2 linked regions of the Homo sapiens genome follow. The protein of the gene in region 2 interacts with the protein of the main gene of each other region in a biochemical or structural test. Each region holds a gene or a part of one and is shown on either strand. Other genes may lie near its edges.

The links. Proteins that work in one complex are often made in the same cells at the same time.
Region 1: the proteins of RALA (region 2) and CALM1 form a complex in vitro, tested with the Homo sapiens proteins (2 studies listed by BioGRID).

Annotation. Positions count from the first base shown.
Region 1 is NC_000014.9:90,400,029-90,403,528, reverse strand, and holds part of CALM1 (calmodulin-1), read right to left. Parts: intron 3,465-3,500; coding exon 3,434-3,464; intron 2,271-3,433; coding exon 2,127-2,270; intron 1-2,126. UniProt on the Homo sapiens protein: Calmodulin acts as part of a calcium signal transduction pathway by mediating the control of a large number of enzymes, ion channels, aquaporins and other proteins through calcium-binding. Calcium-binding is required for the activation of calmodulin.
Region 2 is NC_000007.14:39,626,572-39,630,071, forward strand, and holds part of RALA (ras-related protein Ral-A precursor), read left to right. Parts: intron 1-3,500. UniProt on the Homo sapiens protein: Multifunctional GTPase involved in a variety of cellular processes including gene expression, cell migration, cell proliferation, oncogenic transformation and membrane trafficking.

The sequences.
Region 1 (3,500 bases), on a different chromosome or scaffold from region 2:
ACTCCGAGGGAAGAAAGCGCCCCCGACTGCCATCCCTGAGTTAGGGAAATCACTCAGGTCTCACTCTGCCTTGGTTAGTGACAGCAGTAACACAAAAAAGGCCTAGAACTGAGCTGCAGGTTAAGTGTATAAAGTGTTTCAGAGGAGAAAAGATTATGAGAGAGGAACATTGATTCTGTTATGCCATGCATGGGCCATGAAGTCTTACCAAGTCTTCTCCAGGATCATTTCTTGGCCACGCTATGATGGTTAGCCACCTGTTTTCTTCCAACTCAGTATCTTTATTTCCCATTAAGGGAAAAGCTCAGGAGCATTCTCACAGCTCAGACTAGTAACACTTAGGGAACTGTCAGAACAATCTGTTCTACGGCCAGTACTCCAAACAACTCCTCTTTAAAACTAAGAGATGAATACCCCCAAAGACAAGCACTCCAGACTAACAGTGTCATTGAACTAAATGGAAATAAAATTAGAAAGAAAAACCCTTAGGTTAAGTTACTCATTTTCACCAGTACCTTTCAAAGAAAATACCTCAGGGATCCCTTCAAGACTTTTTTAGCCTCAAAAATTTTAAGATATTGTTCATATTCATCAAAAACAAAAGAAATTATTTTAAGCTATCTCACAGCCATGCAGAGAAGGTCAGGTACCATCCTGTTTTCTCAGTGCAAACACAGGATTCTGTAGCCTGGCACAACTTCTCCTTCTTCCACACAATCCAAGAGCCTAACAGACTTCTCCCCTCCCCAGGCACAGATTCCCGGGGCTCCCACAAACAAGAGGAAGTTACTCCACGTTCCTGGGTAGCTGATCATCTTAGCAAACTAGAGAACTATGGACAACCTTTTCTTTCCAAAACACTATTAGTGAAAACCACTCTAACGTGCTGAAGGCTTTGTCAAAGAACCTAATCAAAAGCTCTGCTGCCAAATGTTTGTGACCAGACAAGCGATTTTACTACACCACCCTCGAGTCAATCATCTAGAAAGTAAAATCTAGATCCGAATTGTTTATTCTTAATGCTTCTTTTATTTTTTCTTTTATCCTTTTCTCCTCCCAACTCATCTTTTAAAAATCATGTTCTATACTGTCATACAGTACATTAGAATATATATAGGATTTACCAAAATACGTGGTTTTTTTTTAGGGGTGGGGAAGTGTGCTTCAAAGCCTGCTTACTGATGGAAATCAGCAATCAAAGTTCTGTTGTCCGCTGCTGTAGAGTCGAGAGGAACAGATGACAGACCGCTATCAGGGTTACTGCTGGTTCCCTCTGGCCCTGCACCTTACAGCTTCCCTTTCCGTTAGGTTCTGCAAATCTATCCCCTGGAGTCACCACACATCCGCCTCCAAACCTCACATGCTCCTCTGCAGCAAACACATCTACAGCTCACACTGTACTCACTTTTATGGTAACTTCTAAGAGTGCTCGTCACCTACTTCATCTGGGGGTTCCTCCTCCTCTTTAAACACAGTAAGTTTGTTAAAAAGCACTTTCTATGGCTATTTAATTTCACCTCCCCCCTCAAGACTCAGTGCAGACTCATGGGCCAGTTGATAAAAGCTTTGAGCTCGGCCAGGAGCAGTGGTTCACGCCTGTAATCCCAGCACTTTGGGAGGCCGGGGAGGGCGGATCACGAGGTCAGGAGTTTGAGACCAGCCTGGCCAACATGGTGAAACCCCATCTCTACTAAAGATACAAAACACTAACTGGGCGTGGCGACACACGCCTGTAATTCCAGCTACTCAGAAGGCTGACGCAGGAGAATCGCTGGAACCCAAGAGGCAGAGGTTGCAGTGAGCCGAGATCGCGCCAGTGCCACTCCAGCCTGGGCGACAGGGCGAGACTCCGTCTCCAAAAAAAAAAAAAAAAATAGATTTGAGCTCTAGGTCGCACCAAGCAGGAAGAAAACAATAGTGATCCCATGCAGAAAACATTCTAGACACTAAGCAGGATGGACGCAAGGCCCATCATCTTCTATTTTAATTGTCAATGGCCCTGGGGCAACCACAGAAAGGATCTTTGCACATTTGCTTTGCTCTGGGGACCTGAAAGACAATCCTGTAACATGTCTGAACTTGAATTACACAACAATGGCCCTCATTCATGGTTTTAAAGCTCTTACCATCAGCATCCACTTCATTGATCATATCCTGCAATTCAGCTTCTGTTGGGTTCTGACCCAGTGACCTCATGACAGTTCCAAGTTCCTTTGTTGTGATGGTGCCATCGCCATCTTTATCAAATAGGGAGAAGGCTTCCTTGAATTCTGAAAACAAAAGTTGACCCGTTAGAATCAATGTCTTTATCCAACCCAGTCACAATACACACTTGCCGGGGGCTTGCCAAAGCCAGCCATTCAAGTTGTGCAACGTATCAGAAGTCTGGTCTTTATCTACTGAAATAATGACCACAATAGTCCTGTTGGACTGGCCTTCATACAGCAGCCCATAAAGCAAACACTGCTCCCAATAAACAGTGCCACACACCACAATATTCCCAAAGGTTTCAAGGCGGCTAAGCTGGAACATGCTTAAATTAGTCCTAAATCCAATCTTTTTTTTTTTTTTTAAACAATGGAGTCTCGCTCTGTCACCGAGATTGGAGTGCAGTGGTGCAATCTCAGCTCACTACAACCCCTGCCTCCCAGGTTCAAGGGACTAAATCCAATCTGACAAGATTGGTCCATGTGCCCCCTTCAAATCCCTTCCTGTTACATTTCTAAAGCCATAAGAATCCCTTGTTTCATAACAAATAAAATGGTTACTAGAAATGTACATTCCCAGGTAAACTCTCTCCACATGACTTTTAGAATATTTCAGAAGCATTCCTGGTTTCCTAACGAGAAACAGTCTCAAAACAAGTCCTCCAGGAATATTAAAAAGCTAAAATCTGCCAGACGTGGTGGCACATGCCTGTAGTCCCAGCTACTCAGGAGGCTGAGGCAGGAGGATTGCTTGAGCCCAGGAGTTAGAGACCAGCCTGGGCAACAGAGTTTAACTAATGTAACTTTCTTCCCAATTACTACAGTGGTCCTAACACTCATATTCACCCATTTCCATTTATTTTAGGATAGCGAGCACAAGCTTTCGTGGCAGATTACTGAAAGACCCATGGCATAAGAATTGTAAACTAAACCGCTGAGTAGCAGGCTCAGTACAATTAATCATACGCAAACTTTGCACATTGTGAAACATGGTCAAATTCTCCAGAGTTTAACATGTGGGCATCCTTAGTTTTACTTCCTTTCACCTCATCTATAAAGTACTGGCAAGAATAACATCTGACCTCAGTGTTTCTGCTTACTGTTCTTATTTAAATAAATTCTTAGAAAACTGCCCAGACTGTAGCGGGGAGGAACAGAGGAGTCACCAAAACTGAGTCAGTGCCTAGTTCTGGCCTTCTGGGGACTCCTTGGAGTTGTCAACTTACCAGCAATCTGTTCTTCGGTCAGCTGATCAGCCTATATGAAGAAAGAAAAGGTTATCATTCAGTCCAC
Region 2 (3,500 bases):
TCTCTTTTATCTTCAGCGTGCCTACAAATACAGTGTTATCACCGTCCATGTGTGCCATGATGGAAAAATGGTTGGGCATTTTTCCCGTGGGTGTCCCGGTAAAGTATTTGGACTCAATTCTGGTGTTTGATTAGTGCTTTTTAAAGTAACAGAATCGTCCCTATTTGAGAGGAATACCATAAATCTATTTGTAGTGACCTTTCCTTGAAATCACATTTTTTTTAGTTCGTTCTTTCACTAATGGAAATGGGGGAGAAGCTATGGGGGACAGTAGAAAGAATGGTAAAAGAAGCAGAGATGTGCTTGGTCTGTTTTTAACCGTTTGAGACCATTAATCATTTTCTCTGGGTTTAAGATGGAGGCTTAAAAGTGGCAGAAGTCTTGTAAGGGTTTAGCTGCTATTCAGTGCTGGTAGAATTCTCTTCCCTCCTAAGCCTGTGCACTTTTTAAAATGCACTTTTAAATAGGCTTAATTTGAAGAATGTGTCCATCTCTCTCTCTCTCTCTTTTTTTTTTTTAAAAGATGTACCCTTAAGTAAAAAACAGCTGATTGTCTGGCCCCCATAAGTAACAGTTATTCTGTTTTTTCTTTAAGACATCTTTCTTATTACCTTATCGCATTCATAAGGATTTGGGTTGCCGTATAGAAAAAAAGAAATTAAAGTTCTATGGGTTTCTAAAATATGTATGAGTAAATTTTAGGTGAGAATTTGCATCTTTGATTTAATTATACGTGAAGGTGATGACTTAGTTTCTGAAAGTCAAGAGGGTAGTCTTTACAAGCCAAAAAAGGCATGCTTCCATAAAATTATACTATTCTTAAAGGCCTTCACAGCTAGGGTCCTATATTAGATGCAATAGATGTAACACTGACATACATAGTCTCCTTAAAGTCTGGGATCCAATTTTATTGCTGAATTTACTTTTGAAACTAAATGTCAGGGTTTGGTAATGTTATTTTGGACAATAAGACATAGTTAGATTATAAAATGGCGTATACTCCCAGATTTATTGGGAAGGTGGGCAAAGATCCCCCAGTTTCCAAAAGTTATGATTATGGTCATCTAAGCCACAGGATCTGTTTTCTTATGTAGTTGAGAAGCTAACATAGTACTCCATTAAAAGTGGAGGTTGCCACACTGCGTGACCAAACACTGAGTTCAGCTGCCCTGTCTAGATATTCTGGATTACTACAGCAGCCTTCTAGCCTATGGTTGGAACCCATCTGATACTTTTCCCATTCTTGCTTAGAACAATGGTGATATTTCTCTGCTTAAAATCCTCTTGTGGCTCTTTTTTGCCCATTAATAAAATTCAAACTCCATTTATCCTTAATCTCATATACAAAACCTTCAAGATGTGCTCCTTACCTAACTCTCTTTTTTCCCCTTTATCTTTCATATTTTTCATTTTTTTTCTTACCTAACCCTTTAGCCTTATCTCTCTTCTTGGATGATCTTTTGTTCTACCAATACCCAGCTTCTGGAATGCTAGTGTTTGTTTACTCAGTCCTCCATTTCCTCTTCCTGGAATTCTAGCCTCTCTTCCTTCCCCTAATCTAGTATACTCCTACTGGTCCTTCAGAACTCAGTTTAGGTTATAATTCTCCAAAAAATTACAATTAGGTTCTCTCTCTGGATCCCATCCCTCAAAAAACAAAAAACAAAAAACCTTTAAGACTGGGCTGATTGCTTCTCTTATGTGCTGTCATAATATCTGTTACAGCTCTTAACTACACTGGAGAGAGTACTTTCATTAGCCTATTGTAAATTTTGTTGACAGCAGTCCACAGTAACCTCATAACTACACACACACACACACACACACACACACACACACACATTCTTTCTCTCTCTTAAAGGCCTTCTTCGTAGGCCTTTATCAGTCAAGTGCCCAAACTTTCTCAATTCATGGCACCCTTATTATCGCAGTAATTTTTTTCACAGCATCCCTAGGTCAAAAGAAACACCTAACAGTTTAATTTTTTTGTTTTTTGTTTTTTGAGACGGAGTCTCGCTCTTTCACCCGTGCTGGAGTGCAGTGGCGCGATTTCGGCTCACTGCCGCCTCCACCTCCCAGGTTCAAGCAATTCTCCTGCCTCAGCCTCCCGAGTAGCTGGGATTACAGGCACGCGGCACCATGCCTGGCTAATTTTTTGTATTTTTAGTAGAGACGGGGTTTCACCATGCTGGCCAGGCTGGTCTCGAACTCCTGACCTCGTGAGCCATGTGCCTCAGCCTCCCAAAGTGCTGGGATTACAGGCGTCAGCAACCATGCCTGGCCAGTTTAATTTATTAAGTAATTAGGTCTGAACAACTTAATAAGTATGTATCTCCTAACAAGTCAGTAGCTGTGTGAAAAGATAAAATACATAAACTAAAATCAGTAACTTTCATTCTTAACTGCTATCGTGTATGTACCATAGTTTTCTCGACTAATGTCCTGTTTGAACATTTAAGTAATATCTAATATTTTGCAATTACAAATGATGTTACAGTGAAAAACTTTGTGTACATGTATCTTTGTATTGTTGGAGAGATACATCTTCAGGATAAATGCATATGTAGAGTTGTTAGGTACTGTCAAACTCCTCATCCTGTGGGGTTATACTATTTTGCATTCCTACCAGCAGTGTATGAGAGTAGAGTGCTTATTTCCTCACAGCCTCACCAGCAGTGTTTTGTCAGCTTTTGAATTTGTGCTGATCTAATAGGTAAGAAATTGTATCTCAGTGTATTTTCCATTTGTACTTCTATTACAAGTGAATTGAACATGTTTTCATATGTTTAAGGGTCATTTTAATATTTATTTTTATTGTTCATATTATTTGCTCACTTTCTTTTCTTTTCTTTTTCCTTTTTGAGATGGAGTTTCGCTCTGTCGCCCAGGCTGGAGTGCAGTGGCACGATCTCTGCTCACTGCAACCTCTGCCTCCCAGGTTCAAGCGATTCTCCTGCCTCAGCCTCCTGAGTAGCTGGGATTACAGGTGCACGCCACCACGCCTAGCACGTTTTTGTATGTGTGTATGTATTTATTTATTTATTTTGAGATGGGGTCTCACTCTGCCAGGCTGGAGTACAGTGGCGCCATCTCAGCTCACTGCAACCTCTGCCTCCTAGGTTCAAGCGATTTTCCTGCCTCAGCCTCCCGAGTAGCTGGGACTACAGGCGCGTGCCACCACGCCTGGCTAATTTTTTGTACTTTTAGTAGAGATGGGGTTTCACCGTGTTAGCCAGGATGGTCTCGATCTCCTGACCTCGTGATCCACCTGCCTCGGCCTCCAAAAGTGTTGGGATTACAGGCATGAGCCACCGTGCCTGACCCTAATTTTGTATTTTTAGTAGAGATGGGGTTTCACCATGTTGGTCAGGCTGGTCTCAAACTCCTGACCTCGTGATCCGTCCACCTCAGCCTCCCCAAGTGCTAGGATTACAGGCGTGAGCCACCATGCCGAGCTTTCTTTTACTTTTTTTCTTTTTTTTGAGACAGAGTCTTGCTGG